Linked DNA regions of Homo sapiens: region 1 is linked to region 2. The links come from fine-mapping of genetic effects on gene expression. A gene starts in region 2. The other region holds a variant in brackets. All regions are shown on one strand. Distances are between the middles of the regions.

Region 1 (10,395 bases), 34 kb after region 2:
TTGGGAGGCCAAGGCGGGCGAATCTCTTGAAGTCAGGAGTCAGAAACCAGCCTGGCCAACATAGCGAAACCCCGTCTCTACTGAAAATACAAAAATTAGCCAGGCATGGTGTTGCACACCTGTAATCCCAGCTACTCGGGAGGCTGAGGCACAAGAATCACTTGAACCTGGGAGGCGGAGGCTGCAGTGAGACGACATCACGCCACTGTACTCCAGCCTGGATGACAGAGGGAGACCCTGTCTCAAATAAAAAAAAAAGGAAAAGAAAGAAAAGAAAACTGACAACAGGGCCCAATTCTGAGAGAGGAGAAAGGGACCTTCCCAAATGTACAATTCCAGAAGCAGTGTAAATACTCCCTGACCCATCCCAAGTTTGCTGAGTCATGAATATTAAATCAGCAGCAAGGTCAAAACGGATAAGTATCTGTAGGGTACTGAGAGTGGAAGATTAGCCTGAATTTAGGGATTTGTGGTTTTTAACTCAGGAACAGGGCAGAAAATGCTAACCTGCCCAGATCCACATTACCACATTACCTGGCTTTCAGCTCAACCCCAAACTCTACTCTCTGAATCACAGTATCCTGGTCCCCATCTATTCAAGTCTATCACTGCCACAGCACACAGGAGAAAGGGAAAAGATTCAGAGAGACTTTCTGCTGGACACTTATATGTGGGACAGAAAACGTGTCCCTTCCCAGCCATCTCATACAGTTCATTTGAACTGGATACCAATCTTTCTCAGCTGTGCAGGGCTCCTACGCTTCCTAGAACAAAGCAAACATCATATCTTGATCTTGGACTCAACTTAAGAATCACTTTTCTTGGAACTCAGAATTTGGGGGTGGTAAGGACCCAGATGAAGGAAAAGATACCAAGGTAAACAGGGAGGGCCACTTTAGGAAGCTATTTCAACAAAGGTAATGCAAGTTTGGGGAAAAGGATATGAGAGACAAATGTGCTCTATCAAAAGCAGAAAGGAATTAGAGACTTTTGCCAAAGAAAACAGAAATGCTATGGAGGCAGGCTAGAAGAAAAAGTCCCAAGAGTTAGGCAAGTATGCACAAAATGACAAAAAGAGATCAGCAGGGAGCTTCCTTCAGCTAGACAGGGAATAAGGTGATTCCTGGGGATTACACAGGAATACAGAAATATTAGGAGAAAAAGCTAAAAACTTGAATTGAGAAGGTAAGTTAGACATGGGTACCCACAGTCACCGCAGAGAAATAAATCTGATGAGGGAAGTAAGGCAAAAATGGGTAAGTATGAAGAGTGAGTAAAAAATGACTACAATGGCCGGGCGCGGTGGCTCACGCCTGTAATCCCAGCACTTTGGGAGGCCGAAGCAGGTGGATCACTAGGTCAGGAGATCGAGACCATCCTGGCTAACACAGTGAAACCCCGTCTCTACTAAAAATACAAAAAAATAGCCGGGCATGGTGGTGGGCACCTGTAGTCCCAGCTACTCGGGAGGCTGAGGCAGGAGAATGGCGCGAACCAGGGAGGCGGAGCTTGCAGTGAGCCAAGATCGCACCACTGCACTCCAAGCCTGGGCAACAGGGCGAGACTCCATCTCAAAAAAAAAAAAAAAAAAAAAAAAAATGACTACAATGCACTTAGCAACTGAAGTACAGGCAGAAACCACCCAAGAGAAATTACAAGACCCTCTGCAGTTATAGAAAAATATGACTTAGAGAAGGAGTCAAAGAAAGACATTTCCAAGGGCATGAGAAACTAGAGAGGACTACAGTGGGGGAAAAAGGCCTGAGGGGAACTGAAGGAAAGGGGGAAGGGGGATCCACTCTTAACAAGTGATGCCATGGGAAGGTATCTCTTCCCCAGCTCCCCAGGGTGAAATCAAAGAATGAGACAGAAATCAGGAGAGTCTCTAGGACAATTCCAGGCATCAAATCCAAGAGGTTCAGAATACCAACAGTCACACAAAGAAAAACTCTTGGGAGGCAAGAAAGGGCTCTCTCTGGCTTAATCTAAATGGGAAAAAAATGTCCTAGAAAATAGATTCAGAGCAGATAAGGAAGGTGGTATTATAAGGAGTTCTAAGGAACCAAATCCTGGGCAAAGGGGGAGGTGAAATAAGGAAGGGTCTTTGAAAGATGATCCCGTCTTCCAAAAAAGGTTGTCAGATTCCCGAACTGGGATAGTTGGCCAAGAGTCTTCAAGAAGTGGAAATCTTAAGATAAACAGAAGGGAACCTCATAAGCTTCCTTTCAGAGATCCTTTTAGAGATTATGACTATGAAGCTTACATGCCTCAAGACGAAGAAACTATATGAATGACCTGAAGGTATCTGAGGTCTAAGTGAGACCTCAAATCCATTCCTGAGTAGAATGGTAGAGCAGTGGGTCTTGAGATCAAGGTGTGGTGGGGAGAGAGACTTGCGAAAGATGCCACCTTATGGCTGGCTGGGAAGCAACTTGACTGATCCAACCCAGGGTTCCTGAGGTCAAAGATGCCAAACGTCGTAAATGGATCTGACCATTTCTCCTTGGCTTGGGAACCGGAATATAAGATGAAAGTGGGGTGAGTGTTCCAGAGCCAGTAGGCAGAGGCCTCTCTGAGGAAGATGAAAGGATCTTTTACGGGACAGAGGGCCTTCCCAAAGGGACCGTGTGGAAGAAAGACAATTCTCCATGTGCTTGGATCGTGGGGAAGATGTGATTAAGGTCTAAGGTATGTCTTCCACCAGACAACGGACACAGTCAATTAGAAGCTGGGTAAAGGGGTCTCTCCTGCGGAGCGGGGAGCGCCAAGCCAGGGACAATAATGGCCTGAAGTTCATTCTCCCGGAGATGGGGGTAGAAGCAGGTGCAGGTGCCTTAGAGGGGTCAAAAATAAGAGGAACAGGGTTCACTCTAAGCGGTCTCCCAGGGAAGGCTGCGGGTTGGAGCAAGGGTCCAAGATTCTAAGGGCCAGGACTCAGCTCCAGAAGCTCGATCCCGCCCCACGCGTTCCTGCTCCGGCCAGGGGAGGGGGCTAAGGACCGGCGTCCCCAGTCGGCGCGCCGTCTCACCTTGTAGAAGGCCCCGTTGGAGCCGCGCACCTCGACGGGCAGTCCCGGCTCCACATCCCCCCCAGAGGCCAGGCCGCCCATGGCGCCGCCACCGCCTCCGACTCCCCCGGCGGCGGCTGCAGCAGCAGTCTGAGTGCGGGCCGGGCCAGGCCCCCGGCGTCTCCCCGGAGGAGGAGCCGGAGGGGGAGCCGCGGGGGGCGGGAGCCGGGCCGGCCCCACGGCGGCCCTGCCACAGCCAACGAGCAGGGGGCCGGGGCCGGGCCGCTCCCCGTCCGCCGCCGCCGCCTTGGTCTCCGCCACCGTGAGGGAAACGGCCGCCGCCGCCGCTGCCTTCGTCACCTCAGCTTCCGCCCGCCGCCGCCCCCGCTGCTGCCTCAGTCCCGGGACCCGCTGCTGCCGCTGCCGCTCCACAGCCTCCACCTCCCCCTGCCACCGCCGCCTACTGCGCAGGCGCACCGGGCACCCGCCCGCTGCGCGCGGGGCCCCGAGGGCCACCGCGCAGGCGTCAAGGTTAGAGCCCCAGCTAGCGCCAGCTAGCGCATCGGGGCTTCCACATTCCCTTTCACTCTCTCACTCCCCCTCCTGGTCGCTTGCTAGCGCTTGCGCAGAACAAGATTAGCCTTCTTTCTTCACCGCTCCACCGCCCAGCCACCCCGTCTCTTCCTTTCCCCGCCCCACAACACTGAGAACCAACCAATCAGGGGGAGGGAGGGGCCGGGCTCGCTCAGTCCGATTGGGCGGCGTCCGCACAGTCACACAGCGCTCAGGCCACACCCACTCCGCCGCCGCTGGCCCCACCGGGCTTGGACAAGTTAGGGATGGGCATGCGCCTGAACGACTGCTTGGTCACTTTCCCCACCTTTGTCTTTCTTGGTGCGCACGCTCCAAAAAGAAAAAAAAAAGAAGAGGAGTCGCCGCAAGGAAAAAGGTGCTTGGTGCGCACGCGCTGAGCTTTACCCTCTTCGCGTATGCATCGCCGATATTTTAAGAATCTGTAACTCTCTACTGTAGTAGATTTAACAGTCATGGCTCTTACCTTGAAGAGATTGTGATACAATGAAAGTTTTGGCCGGGCGCGGTGGCTCACGCCTGTAATCCCAGCGCTCTGGGAGGCCGAGGCAGGTGGATCACCTGAGGTCCTCGGATCACCTGAGGTCAGGGGTTCGAGACCAGCGTGGCCAAAATGGTGAAACCCACCCCCCCCCCCACCCCGCATCTAATAAAATACAAAAATTAGCCGGGCGTGGTGACACGCGCCTGTAATCCCAGATACTCGGGAGGCTGAGGCAGGAGACTACCTTGAACCTGGGAGGCAGAAGTTGCAGTGAGCCAAGATCGCACCATTGCACTCCAGCCTGGGCGACAGAGCAAGACTCAGTCTCAAAAAAAAAAAAAAAAGAAAGAAAGAATAGAAAGAAAGCTTTAAGAATAGTTTCAGACGGGCGCTGTGGCTCACTCCTGTAATCCCAGCACTTTAGGAGGCTCAGGCGGTGGATCACTTGAGCCCAAAAGTTTGACACCAGCCTCAACAGGGCGAAACCCTGTTTCTACTAAAAATACAAAAATTAGGACGGGCGCGGTGGCTCAGGCCTGTAATCCCAGCACTTTGGGAGGCCGAGATCACGGGCGGGC[G/A]GATCACGAGGTCAGGAGATGGAGACCATTCTGGCCAACATGGTGAAACCTCGTCTCTACTAAAATACAAAAAATTAGCCGTGGTAGTTCCAGCTACTCGGAAGGAGTCCCAGCTACTCAGGAGGCTGAGGCAGGAGAATCGCTTGAACCTAGGAAGGTGGAGGTTGCAGTGAGTGGATATCATGCCACCACACTCCAGCCTGGGCAATGAGTGAAATTTCTTCTTTAAAAATAATAATAATGGCAGGGCGCGGTGGCTCATGCCTATAATCCCAACACTTTGGGAGGCCGAGACGGGCGGATCACGAGGTCAGGAGATCGAGACCATCCTGGCTAACACGGTGAAACCCCATCTCAACTAAAAATACAAAAAAAAAAAAAAAAAAAAAAAATTAGCTGGGCGTGGTGGCGGGCGCCTGTAGTCCCAGCTACTCGGGAGGCTGAGGCAGGAGAATGGCGTGAACCCAGGAGGCGGAGGTTGCAGTGAGCGGAGATCGTGCCACTGCACTCCAGCTGGGGCGACAGAGCGAGACTCCATCTCAACAACAACAACAACAAATAATAATAATAGTGGCCCGGCGCGGTGGCTCACGCCTGTAATCCCAGCACTTTGGGAGGCCAAGATGGGTGGATCACAAGGTCAGGAGTTCAAGACCAGCCTGGCCAACATGGTGAAACCCCATCTCTACTAAAAATACAAAAATTAGCTGGGCATGGTGGTGCATGCCTGTAAACCCAGCTACTTGGGAGGCTGAGGCAAGAGAATTGCTTGAACCTGGGAGGCAGAGGTTGCAGTGAGCCCAGATTGTGCCATTGCACTCCAGCCTGGGCAAAAAGAGCGACACTCTGTCTCAAAAAATAGTAATAATAATAATAAATAATGCTGGGGAAATTCAAAATAGGAAAAACTGTCATGAAATAAGGGTAGTAGCAGGAAAACTTCACATTCTGGGAGTTGTCCTATGTTCCATCCACTTCTTGGATTAGAGTAAATGGTAATGCCAATCATGGAAGAGATAACATAGGAGATAAAGGTTTAGAAAATAAGGTGATGAATTTACTTTTATTTTTTTTTTGCCCTTTGAGCTTAGCCACCACATCTGGCTAATTTTTAAATTTTTGTATTTAATGGTGGAGACAAACAGACTTGGAAGTCTCTGACTTCATAGTGTGATGGCAGAAGAAAGACACTGGAAAAATTATTAATATTTATAATAATTATTAATATTGCAACCATGGCCAGGCACAGGGCTCATGCCTGTAATCCCAGCACTTTGGGAGGCTGAGGCGGGTGGATCACCTGAGGTCACCTGAGGTCAGGAGTTCAAGACCAGTCTGGTGAAATTCCATCTCTACTAAAAATACAAAAATTAGCTGGGCATGGTGGCACGCGCTTGTAGTCCCAGCTACTCGGGAGACTGAGGCAGGAGAATCGCTTGCACCCAGGAGGCAGAGGTTGCAGTGAGCCAAGATTGTGCCACTGCACTCCAGCCTGGGTGACAGAGCGAGACTCCATCTCAAAAAATTAAAATAAAAAACAAAAATAAATAAAGGCGATAGAAGAAAGGAAAATAAAGTATAAGAAAATTAAAGGATTAGTCCATGGGATACAACATCTGAATAACCAGAATTCCAGAAAGTGATAACAGAAATAATTATCTGGAAAGGATAAAATCATCTAAAATCAATAGTAATAATTATTCAACAAAATTTTCCAAGGCCAGGTGTGGTGGCTCATGCCTGTAATCCTGGCACTTTGCGAGGCTGAAGCAGGCAGATCACTTGAGCTCGGGCGTTCAGGAGCAGCCTGGGCAACATGGCGAAACCCTTTCTCTACCAAAACTACAAAAATTAGCTGGGTGCGGCGGCTCACGCCTGTAATCCCAGCACTTTGGGATGCCGAGGTGGGTGGATCATCTGAGGTCAGGAGTTTGAGACCAGCCTGGCCAACATGGTGAAACCCCATCTCTACTAAAAATATAAAAATTAGCCACACGTGGTAGCGTGTGCCTGTAATCCCAACTACTCAGGAAGCTGAGGGAGGAGAATCTCTTGAACTTGGGAGGCTGAAGTTGCAGTGAGCCGAGATCACACCACTGCACTACATACAGCCTGGGTGACAGAGAAAGATTCTGTCTCAAAAAAAAAAATTATTTCCAACCTCGTTTCCTATACCTAGCCACACTCTCAATATTTTTTTGTTGTTGAGATAGAGTCTTACTCTGCCACTCAGACTGGAGTGCAGTGGTATGATCTCGGCTCACTGCAACCTCTGCCTCCCAGGTTCCAGTGATTCTCTTGCCTCAGCCTCCTGAGTAGCTGTGATTATAGGTGCCCACTGCCACAGCTGGCTAGGTTTGTTTTTTTTGTTTTTGTTTTTGTTTTTGTTTTTTTTGTATTTTTAGTAAAGACGGGGTTTCACCACGTTGGCCAGGCTGGTCTCAAACTCCTCACCTCAGGTGGGTCACCCACCTCGGCTGCCCAAAGTGTTGGGATTATAGGCATGAGCCACTGCGCCCGGCCCACACTCTCAATTAAGTGCAGTAATAGAACAGACATTTTCAGGCTTTTAAGTTCCCAACAAATTTACCTCCCGGTACTCTTTCTCAAAAAGCTCCATCAAAATAAGAAGAGTAAACATAGAAAGAGGAAACACAGGTTCCAGGAAACAGGACGTCAACACAAGAGAGAGGCAAAGGGGATCCCCAGGATAAAGGTGAAGGGAGATCCCAATTGCGCAGCCTCAAGATCGCCTCTCTGGACTGGAGCAGGTCTAAGAGCTTTTTGAGAAAGTTCTTCAAAATGACGTAGATTGAAATCCCTAAGTGTTTGTATATCCTTATAAGAGATTAATTAAGGGAGAATTTGGGGATAAATTAGAGTACACAGGAAACTAAGCAAACAGAGAGGACAAGGCAGTTATTAATTCCAGGGAAAACAAAAATGGTACAGGAAAGAAAAAGAATTGTAACTATCCACATGGATCATACGTGTATTCGTATAATCATAATAATCATAATAATGAGGCCAGGCATGGTGGCTCACACCTGTAATCCCAGCATTTTGGGAGGCCGAGGTGGGCAGATCACCTGAGGTCAGGAGTTCAAGACCAGCCTGACCAACATGGAGAAACTCCATCTCTACTAAAAATACAAAATTAGCCAGGTGTGGTGGCACATGCCTGTAATCCCAGCTACTCGGGAGGCTGAAGCAGGAGAATTGCTTGAACCTAGCAGGCAGAGGTTGCAGTGAGCCAAGATCGCGCCATTGCACTCCAGCCTGGGCATTAAGGGTGAAACTCCATCTCAAAAAAAAAAAAAAATCATAATAATGTAAATGCTAAGGCTGGTGCGGTGGCTCATGCCTGTAATCCCAGCACTTTGGGAGGTCAAGATAGGCGGATCATGAGGTCAGGAGTTCGAGACCAGCCTGACCAACATGGTGAAACCCCATCTCTACTAAAAATACAAAAATTAGCCAGGCATGGTGGCATGCACCTGTAATCCCAGCTACCCAGGAGGCTGAGGCAGGACAATTGCTTGAACCCGGGAGGCAGAGGTTGCCTCTGCATGAGCCGAGATCATGCCATTGCACTCCAGCCTGGGCAACAAGAGCGGAACTTCGTCTCAAAAAAAAAAAAAAAAAGTAAACACTAAACACAGGAGGATGGGAAGTGGAGGTGGGATGATAAGCAGATTGGAAAAATAGTGCTTCTCTTTTTTTAACCTCAGTGATCCGTGTTCTGAAGGGCTAGCTTTTCATCCTCAACAGTGCAAAGCCAATAGCTAATGCCTAAACAAAAAACACTGGAGTGCAGTGGCTCAAACATGCCCCACTTCAGCCTCAACCTTAAGAAGTAAGGCCAAGAGCAGTGGCACATGCCTGTAATCCCAGCCCTTTGGGAGGCCAAGGCAAGAGGATCAGTTAAGGCCAGAAGTTCATGGTTACAGTGAGCTATGATCGTGCCACTGTACTCCAGTCTAGGCAACAGAAAAAGACCCTGTCTCTAAAAAAGTAAAGACTCCTTATCCCTCTCCAAAAAAAAAAAAAAATTGAAAAAATTGAAAAAGAAAAAGAGACATCAAGAAGTGGTAATACTGGCCAGGCGTGGTGGCTCACACCTGTAATCCTCCCTCCTTTGGGAGGCCAAAGTGGGAGGATTGCTTGAGCTCTGGAGTCCAATACTAGCCTGGACAACATAGTGAGACCTAGTCTCCAATAAAAAATTTGTTGTTTGTTTGTTTGTTTTTTGAGACAGAGTCTTACTCTGTTGCCTAGGCTAGAGTGCAGTGGCACGATGTTGGCTCACTGCAACCCCTGCCTCCCGGGTTCAAGAGATCCTCCTGCCTGAGCCTCCCAAGTAGCTTGGATTACAGCCGTTTGCCCCCACATCTGGCTAATTTTTGTATTTTTAGTAGAGACGGGTGGGGTTTCACCATGTTAGCCAGGCTGGTCTCGAACTCCTGACCTCAAGTGATCCACCCGCCTCAGCCTTCCAAAGTGCTGGGATTACAGGCGTGAGCTACAGTGCCCAGATTAATAATTTTTTTTTTTGTTTTTTTGGGGGACGGAGTTTTGCTCTTGTTACCCAGGCTGGAGTGCAATGGTGCAATCTCGGCTCTCTACAACCTCTGCCTCCCAGGTACAAGTGATTCTCCTGTCTCAGTTTCCCAAATAGCTTGGATTACAGACATGTGCCACCACACCCAGCTAATTTTTTTGTATTTAGTAGAGACAGGGTTTCACCATGGTAGTCAGGCTGGTCGCGAACTCCTGACCTCAGGTGAGCCACCTGCCTCGGCCTCCCAGAGTGCTAGAATTACGGGCATGTGCCACCGTGCCCAGACAAAAATTTTGCTTTCATTAGCCAGGCTTGATAGCACCTGACTGTGATCCCAGATACTTGAGAGGCTGAGGTGGGAGAATCACTTGAGCCCAGGAGGTCAAGGTTGCAGTGAGCCATGATCGCACCACTGCACTTGGCCTGGGCAACAGAGCAAGACCCTGTCACAAAAAAAAAAAAAAAAAAAAAAAAAAAAATCAAGATTTGCAATAGCCAGTTAGCTCAGTTGGTTAGAGCCAGGTGCTAACACCAAGGTTGTGGATTTGATCGCCACGTGGGCAAATGTATTATCATTTATGTGGATGGAGGATTGCTTGAGGCCAGGATTTCGAGACCAGCCTGGCCAACACGGAGAAACCCCATGTCTACTAAAAATACAAAAATTATGGGCTTGACACAGTGGCTCGCACCTGTAATCCCAGCACTTTGGGAGGCTGAGGCGGGCAGATCATCTGAGGTCAGGAGTTTGAGACCAGCCTGGCCAACATGGTGAAAACCCATCTCTACTAAAAAAAAATACAAAAATTAGCTGGGCGTGGTGGTGCACGCCTGTAATCCCAGCTACTCAAGAGGTTGAGGCAGGAGAATCACTTGAACCTGGGAGGCAGAGGTTGCAGTGAGCCAAGATCATGCCACTACACTCCAGCCTGGGGGCAACAGAGCGAGTCTCCGTCTAAAAAAAAAAAAAAAAAAAAAAACCAGCTGCATAAACTGGTCTCAAAATAAAGAAATAAATTAAATTTAAATAATAAAATAAAGTACATAATGTATATCTGTGAAAAAAAAAATCCCATGGAATTGGGGGAGAAATTACAGAAGGAGGCTGGGAGACCAGTAAGGAGGTTGTGGCAATTTTCAAAGAGTGAGAACTTTGCAAGTAAGGATAGAGCTA
Region 2 (8,542 bases):
GAGGGGGGAGGGAAGGGAGCCAAGGGATGGACATCTTGTCATTTTTTTTCTTTGAATAAATGTCACTTTTTGAGGCAAAAGAAGGAACCGTGAACATTTTAGACACCCTTTTCTTTGGGGTAGGCTCTTGCCCCAGGCGCCGGCTCTTCTCCCAAAAAAAAAAAAAAAACACTAATCCATTTCCCTAACCTAGTAACCTCCAGATCCCAGAGGCTCTCCTCACCTCAGCTGAGCTCCTTTGAAAGTGATTCAAGGGACTATGTCACTCAGCCTCATTTGCTGGACCAAATCTGGAGGGAGAACCCCTAAAACCCCTAAGTGAGGTTGCCCAGGGGGTTGTCCCCAGGTGGGGGGAAGCAGGGGAGAGAAAATGGTAGCCATTTTTACATTGTTTTGTATAGTATTTATTGATTCAGGAAACAAACACAAAATTCTGAATAAAATGACTTGGAAACTGCCTGTTTGGGCTTCTCATTTCTTACCTCCCCTTCCCTCTCCCACCTGCTACTGGGTGCATCTCTGCTCCCCCCTTCCCCAGCAGATGGTTACCTTTGGGCTGTTGCTTTCTTGTCACCATCTGAGTTCTCAGACGCTGGAAAGCCATGTTCTCGGCTCTGTGAATGACAATGCTGACTGGAGTGCTGCCCCTCTGTAAAGGGCTGGGTGTGGATGGTCACAAGCCCCTCACATGCCTCAGCCAAGAGGAAGTAGTACAGGGGTCAGCCCAGAGGTCCAGGGGAAAGGAGTGGAAACCGATTTCCCCACCAAGGGAGGGGCCTGTACCTCAGCTGTTCCCATAGCTACTTGCCACAACTGCCAAGCAAGTTTCGCTGAGTTTGACACATGGATCCCTGTGGATCAACTGCCCTAGGACTCCGTTTGCACCCATGTGACACTGTTGACTTTGCCCTGATGAAGCAGGGCCAACAGTCCCCTAACTTAATTACAAAAACTAATGACTAAGAGAGAGGTGGCTAGAGCTGAGGCCCCTGAGTCAGGCTGTGGGTGGGATCATCTCCAGTACAGGAAGTGAGACTTTCATTTCCTCCTTTCCAAGAGAGGGCTGAGGGAGCAGGGTTGAGCAACTGGTGCAGACAGCCTAGCTGGACTTTGGGTGAGGCGGTTCAGCCATGAGGCTGGCTGTGCTTTTCTCGGGGGCCCTGCTGGGGCTACTGGCAGGTAAGGAGGAAGGAGGCTGAGGGGAGGGGGCCCCTGGGAGGGAGCCTGCCCTGGGTTGCTAACCATCTCCTCTCTGCCAAAAGCCCAGGGGACAGGGAATGACTGTCCTCACAAAAAATCAGCTACTTTGCTGCCATCCTTCACGGTGACACCCACGGTTACAGAGAGCACTGGAACAACCAGCCACAGGACTACCAAGAGCCACAAAACCACCACTCACAGGACAACCACCACAGGCACCACCAGCCACGGACCCACGACTGCCACTCACAACCCCACCACCACCAGCCATGGAAACGTCACAGTTCATCCAACAAGCAATAGCACTGCCACCAGCCAGGGACCCTCAACTGCCACTCACAGTCCTGCCACCACTAGTCATGGAAATGCCACGGTTCATCCAACAAGCAACAGCACTGCCACCAGCCCAGGATTCACCAGTTCTGCCCACCCAGAACCACCTCCACCCTCTCCGAGTCCTAGCCCAACCTCCAAGGAGACCATTGGAGACTACACGTGGACCAATGGTTCCCAGCCCTGTGTCCACCTCCAAGCCCAGATTCAGATTCGAGTCATGTACACAACCCAGGGTGGAGGAGAGGTAAAGCTAAAACTGGGGGATGAGAGGGGAGGGAGGCAGGACTGGATATAGGCTCAGAGGGAAGAAGGAAGAGGGGACAGGGAACCTTGGCCGGCATCGCATGCAGTCTTGTGACCTTCCAGTCTTTAACTTCCGCAGGCCTGGGGCATCTCTGTACTGAACCCCAACAAAACCAAGGTCCAGGGAAGCTGTGAGGGTGCCCATCCCCACCTGCTTCTCTCATTCCCCTATGGACACCTCAGCTTTGGATTCATGCAGGTATAGCCATGACCTCAGTCTCACCCCTCACTCAGCCTCCCGGCGCCCCTCCCCTCCCAATCCCACACGCTACTCCTTCCTCTGTGGAGAGGGATACCACCTGCGCCTTCCTCTTCGCCCCACAGGACCTCCAGCAGAAGGTTGTCTACCTGAGCTACATGGCGGTGGAGTACAATGTGTCCTTCCCCCACGCAGCACGTAAGTAACCTCCTTCCCTTTCTCATTGCTACCACTAGACGCCAGGGTTCCTGAAAGGACTAAGCTGGGGCCAGGGAGGTGGATAGGATCTGACCCTTCCTCACTCCTCCAGAGTGGACATTCTCGGCTCAGAATGCATCCCTTCGAGATCTCCAAGCACCCCTGGGGCAGAGCTTCAGTTGCAGCAACTCGAGCATCATTCTTTCACCAGCTGTCCACCTCGACCTGCTCTCCCTGAGGCTCCAGGCTGCTCAGCTGCCCCACACAGGGGTCTTTGGGCAAAGTAAGACCTACCTACTCCTTCCCTCCTAGAATCCTCCCACTGCACTGAAAACCCCTTCCCCAGGCCCATAAGCCACTCATCTCTCTTCTTAACCCCCCAAATCTCGCTCTCCCAGCTTGTCATGGCTACAGGGCAGCTTTCTTTCCATCCTCTACAAGACTCTGCCAGTTTCCCCCTTTTATCACTGCTGAGTCACTGCGGTGAGCTCCTCACCAATCTCCTACTCCCCAGCATCCCCCCATTCCCTCCTCCCACCTTTATCCCAACCAGCACGTCACTGCAAATACCTACCTGCCCTATCCTTCCGCCAGGTTTCTCCTGCCCCAGTGACCGGTCCATCTTGCTGCCTCTCATCATCGGCCTGATCCTTCTTGGCCTCCTCGCCCTGGTGCTTATTGCTTTCTGCATCATCCGGAGACGCCCATCCGCCTACCAGGCCCTCTGAGCATTTGCTTCAAACCCCAGGGCACTGAGGGGGTTGGGGTGTGGTGGGGGGGTACCCTTATTTCCTCGACACGCAACTGGCTCAAAGACAATGTTATTTTCCTTCCCTTTCTTGAAGAACAAAAAGAAAGCCGGGCATGACGGCTCATGCCTGTAATCCCAGCACTTTGGGAGGCTGAGGCAGGTGGATCACTGGAGGTCAGGAGTTTGAGACCAGCCTGGCCAACATGGTGAAACCCTGTCTCTACTAAAAATACAATTAGCCAGGTGTGGCGGCGTAATCCCAGCTGGCCTGTAATCCCAGCTACTTGGGAGGCTGAGGCAGAACTGCTTGAACCCAGGAGGTGGAGGTTGCAGTGAGCCGTCATCGCGCCACTAAGCCAAGATCGCGCCACTGCACTCCAGCCTGGGCGACAGAGCCAGACTGTCTCAAATAAATAAATATGAGATAATGCAGTCGGGAGAAGGGAGGGAGAGAATTTTATTAAATGTGACGAACTGCCCCCCCCCCCCCCCCAGCAGGAGAGCAGCAAAATTTATGCAAATCTTTGACGGGGTTTTCCTTGTCCTGCCAGGATTAAAAGCCATGAGTTTCTTGTCACATGCCTTTCTATGCCTTCCATGGCTGGGTCTCAGGGAGCCGGAAGCAGCTGCTGAGGAGGGATGAAAATGTCAGTGTGTGACGATGCCTCATGGGTTCACCCCCCAAAGCCTGGCACAGCTGGTGTTGGGTCTGCCGTGCCTCCCTTCCTTCCTCCTCTTGGGGCCACTGGCTGCTCCAGTTCCCCATCCGTGGCAAGCCGGTAGAGCCATTCATCCCCGCAGCCTTCTTCCTGACCCTCGTACAGTTTCAAATGCAGCAGACAGCCAAAGCAATGAGTGGGGGGCTGTGGAACTTCATTCCCAAAGGCAGCGCCAGTGGCTCCTGAGCAATGAGAATGTCCTGTCCTGTCCACCATATTCAAGGCCAGCAGAAGAGCCCGATTAAACCCTCGCAGCACCTGGCATGCTCCTATCCCACCTACAAGGGGTTGAATCAAGAAGGAGCAGTGGGTACTCTGACCTCCACTGGGGGCTCCTGGGAACAGCATGCCCCCCACACGGGGCCACCTGCCAAGCCTAACTTCATGCCCCCAGTACTTGAGATGAGGAGTGTCACTCTCAGGACAGCCAAGGTCCAGATTCCAGAAAGGACCTCCCAGATGGCCACAGCCTGCACCAGCAGTGAGCGCCAGTCCCACCCATTACAGCTGGCTACGGCGCAATCCCTGGGAGCCAGGATGAGCAGCACCCCCCAGCCGTAGGAGCCCCAGGAGGCTTCCGGCCTCCAAGGCCCAGAGACTGCCCCACAAGGGCAGCCCTCACCTGGCAGGGCCCCAGCAGCCCCACCTCTGCCTGCAGACATCCGTGTGACCTTGTAGACTTTGGAGGGGGGCCGCCAAAGGGCTGATCCACAGCGGAATGACGCACGGGTGGGCACCGTGGGTTGGCGTCCCGGCGGTCGGTAACGAAGCACAACGCCCCCACCAGGTAGTCCAAGGTGCCCTTTCCCAAGCAGCGCTGCAGGGTCCACTCGGCCTCGCCGAAGTCTCTGCCCAGCACGTGGTGCGCCCTCGGGCCAGCGGGGAGGGGGCGAATCCCGGGACTGCCTCGCCAGGCCTCGGCTCCCCGGAGACTCTTGGGGGTCTGGGCCCCAAGGGTGATTCAGGTGCTGCCCTTCCCCGACCTGGGCTCGCCTCCCCCACCTCCTCCTCTGCTTCACTGTCCCGGGCCCAGCAGTTGCCGGCGCACTCATGCTCCGAGGCCTGAGCCAACCGGAGGCGAGACAAGCACAGGGCCCTGCGCGCAACCCGGCACCTAAGGAGGCCTGCCCGGTGCAGACTCTCCTGCTCCCACCGGCGCCCTTCCCTCTAGAGACGCTGAGAGAACGGGAGCTAGTAGCGCCCCCACCCAACGCCACCTCGGAGACTCCGGCTCCTTCTCTCTCAACTTCGAACAATACAAAGTGTGCTAGGAGAAGACAAGATGGCGCCCAGCAGGAGGAGCGGAGAAAGGCAGGGGTGTAAATCTGGCTTCCAAACTGGAAGCGTCAACAAAGGCGTGGGAGGTCTAACCGCGCAGGCGTGCAGCTTCGGCAAGCTTTACAATTCCAACAGCGCGTCCAAAACGTGGTCCCTGACTGAGACTTATTTTACGCCACTAGAGTGAGGGTGGGTAGCGTCAGAAAGAGCGGGGCACGGGGCGGGCCAGCTTCGCCGCGGGAAAAGAACGGGAGGCGGAGTGTCCGCAGCGCGCACGCGCAACGAAAGTCAATGGCGGTCTGGAGAGACTGGCGGAAGCTAGCTTTGCAATATGGCGGCCGAGGCGGACGGACCGCTTAAACGGCTGCTCGTGCCGATTCTTTTACCTGAGAAATGCTACGACCAACTTTTCGTTCAGTGGGACTTGCTTCACGGTGAGTTTTATTCAGCATCCGATCCAAGTCCTACTCGAGTGACCGTGGGCCCTTAGTCCAAGCCTTGATCGGCGACTAAGTGACGGCAGTGACTGCCGCCATGCCGAGCTGGACGGAAGTCACTTCTGAGAAGGGCGGAAGTGTCTCGGGCTCCTTAGAGGGAGGACACCATATTAGTGCCAGTGGGGAAGTCACCGGGTGGAATTACTTCTTTGTGGAGTTTGTGCTGTAGCGACAATGAAAAACGAAGAGTCAACTTTTATAAAACAAAATAAAAATTAAGTCAAATCATGCCAACCTTTATTAGATCGCTAGCAGGGTTAAACTTAATTCAAAGCCCCTGATGAATCGGGCCTTCATTGCACCCCCAAAGGCTCCGCCACCCTGATTGCTTTCTTTCCAGCCTCCAGGTTTGCTCATAGTCTGATTTCGGAATAATTTGCCTCCCTTCCTTTTTCTGATTGCGAGACAGCTCCACAAGGGTCACCGTCAGACCGTTTGGGGAGCGTCAGTCTGCCCCTGTCAGTTCATGGTACCTCTCTTGAGCTCGTGGGGCACTTTGTTTTAGCCGCATTCATGACCCGTGAGAGTCAGACTCCCACTAGACCAAGTTCCTTGAGGGGAAGGCTTCAAGGCTAGAGAAGTTGTGGATGGCCAGGGCATAAAAGCAAGCCTTGAAAGGGTAAGGTTTAGTCCCTGAGTAGGGGCCAGGGACAGTCAGAGTGTTCAAGAAAGAGTGGTATGGGGCGGGCACGGTGGCTCACGCCTGTAATCCCAGCACTTTGGGAGGCCGAAGCGGGTGGATCACCTGAGGTCAGGCGTTCGAGACCAGCCTGGCCAATAGGGCGAAACCCCGCCTCTACTAAAAATACAAAAAATTAGCCGGGCGTTGTGGCAGGCGCCTGTAATCCCAGCTACTCGGGAGGCTGAGGCAGGAGAATCGCTTAAACCCGGGAGACAGAGGTTACAGTGAGCCAAGATCGTGCCATTGCACTCCAGCCTGGGCAACAAGAGTGAAACTCCGTCTCAAAATTAAAATAAGAAAAAAAAAATGGTATGAAGACTTGTCTTTGGAGAGAGAAGACATGTGAAATGGGGCACCCATTGGCCCAGAGAAGGGAAATAAAGGATCAGAGAGCTCTTGGGCATTTCTCAGCTTTATATGGGGAAGCAATGGAGAGCCGTGGAGGTCAAGCCAAGTTTGGGTGTTAATTTATAGGGAATGGAAGATTGGATGTGGGGGGTGGTAGGCATCGGAGAAAAGCTGTTTTGGAAAGTAACAGTCTGGGGCCCGGTGCGGTAGCTCGAGCTTATAATCCCAGCACTTTAAGGAGGCTGAGGCAGGTGGATCATCTGAGGTCAGGAGTTCGAGACCAGCCTGGCCAACATGGTGAAACCCTGTCTCTACTAAAAACACAAAAATTAACCGGGCATGGTGGTGTGTGCCTGTAATTCTAGCTACTTGGGAGGCTGAGACAAGAGAATTGCTTGAACCCAAGAGGCAGAGGCTGCAGTGGGCTGAGATTGGGCCACTGCACTCCAGCCTGGGTGACAGAGCAAGACTCTGTCTCCAAAAAAAAAAAAAAGTGTGGTGGTTTGGAGCAGGAAGGACCAGGACTTTCTCACTGCCCTCCGCCTCTCCTCCCCCCAAGACAATGCAAGACCCTGGTGTGGGTAAGGGGGCTCGGGGAGAGCCCACAGGAGCTTCAAGCCCTGGCCTGGGTTTCAGACATCTCCTGTCTGCTTACCCTTTTTTCTCTCCTCAGTCCCCTGCCTCAAGATTCTCCTCAGCAAAGGCCTGGGGCTGGGCATTGTGGCTGGCTCACTTCTAGGTATGTCTCTTATCTTTCTTTCCAGCTGTTGGGTTGGGGTGGAGGTGCTGAGAGGCCATCAACTGTGTGGGTGTTCGTTCTATAGCTGTTGTGTTGCATCCCAAAGAATGGAGAGTCCTCAGTCCTACTTTTCTCATCTTTCCCCTAGTAAAGCTGCCCCAGGTGTTTAAAATCCTGGGAGCCAAGAGTGCTGAAGGGTTGAGTCTCCAGTCTGTAATGCTGGAGCTAGTGGCATTGACTGGGACCATGGTCTACAGCATCACTAACAACTTCCCATTCAGGTGAGGGGCCCACCCTTCCACCCCAAGGGTAATACCCACAACTCTAATGGGGATTAAGGTGAAGGAGGTTACAAGGCAGCAAAGTGGCCGGGCCCAGTGGCTTGCACCTGTAACCCCAGCACTTTGGGAGGCCGAGGCGGGTGGATCACCTGAGGTCAGGAGTTCGAACTGGCCAACATGGTGAAACCCCGTCTCTACTAAAAATACAAAATTAGCTGGGTGTGGTGATGGGCACCTGTAATCCCAGCTACTTGGGAGGCTGAGGCAGGAGAATCACTTGAACCTGGGAGGCAGAGGTTGCAGTGAGCCAAGATTGCGCCACTGCACTCCAGCCTGGGCAACAAGAGCGAAACTCAGTCTTAAAAAAAAAAAAAAGGGACAAGGGGCTAGGAAAGTTTTAAGCCCTTTTAGAAACCTAATCATCACCAGTGGAGGTGATCTTGAGAAGGGGTGAGCATCCCGAGAATGGCCACGATTCAGAATGAGCCAGTCCCGTGTGGGGGCTGTAGAGAAGCGTGATCAGAGCATAGTGTCCCTGGATGGATGGGCTATGGAGGCTTTCCCTGCCTCTTTCTAGGCCCGCCTTTCTTCCTCCCAACTCTTGACTCTGCAGCTCTTGGGGTGAAGCCTTATTCCTGATGCTCCAGACGATCACCATCTGCTTCCTGGTCATGCACTACAGAGGACAGACTGTGAAAGGTGCTGGGGACTTACCCAAGAGCAGGCTGTGTGGTTCCTGGGAACCCTGCTGGGAACTCAGGTCTGGGAAAGCCAAATGATGTGGAGAGATTGACAAGGACTCCTGTCTCCCCACCCCTAGGTGTCGCTTTCCTCGCTTGCTACGGCCTGGTCCTGCTGGTGCTTCTCTCACCTCTGACGCCCTTGACTGTAGTCACCCTGCTCCAGGCCTCCAATGTGCCTGCTGTGGTGGTGGGGAGGGTGGGTACCAGGAGCAAGGGACAAGATGTTGTGGGGGCAGGGTGGGGGGGAAGAGTAGAAGATCAAAGTGTG

Evidence for each region.
Region 1: its variant is fine-mapped to the expression of MPDU1 in whole blood (TOPMed, PIP above 0.99). The same link has a PIP of 0.9 or more in blood mononuclear cells.

What each region holds. Positions count from the first base shown.
Region 1 is chr17:7,611,424-7,621,818 of GRCh38, forward strand. FXR2 (FMR1 autosomal homolog 2) reads right to left here and starts at 3,474. Exons shown (of 17, transcript NM_004860.4): 1 at 3,029-3,474. The coding sequence starts at 3,109. It also overlaps a transcript of SHBG not described here and the pseudogene TRUND-NNN6-1. RefSeq lists silencers at 3,029-3,558, 3,669-3,718, 8,295-8,495. The variant G/A (reference allele first, on the strand shown) is at 4,661.
Region 2 is chr17:7,578,548-7,587,089 of GRCh38, forward strand. MPDU1 (mannose-P-dolichol utilization defect 1) reads left to right here and starts at 5,305. Exons shown (of 7, transcript NM_004870.4): 1 at 5,305-5,418; 2 at 7,185-7,250; 3 at 7,399-7,531; 4 at 8,145-8,230; 5 at 8,352-8,470. The coding sequence starts at 5,316. CD68 (CD68 molecule) reads left to right here and starts at 1,091. Exons shown (of 6, transcript NM_001251.3): 1 at 1,091-1,179; 2 at 1,263-1,780; 3 at 1,919-2,038; 4 at 2,164-2,236; 5 at 2,349-2,519; 6 at 2,831-3,564. The coding sequence starts at 1,131. The coding sequence ends at 2,964. MPDU1-AS1 (MPDU1 antisense RNA 1) reads right to left here and starts at 5,545. Exons shown (of 2, transcript NR_136402.2): 1 at 5,371-5,545; 2 at 3,427-3,616. It overlaps EIF4A1 (eukaryotic translation initiation factor 4A1), which reads left to right. Exons shown (of 11, transcript NM_001416.4): 11 at 1-459. It also overlaps SENP3-EIF4A1. RefSeq lists a silencer at 92-280 and enhancers at 1,756-1,815, 1,916-1,985, 4,129-5,002, 4,954-5,003, 5,003-5,877 and 2 more.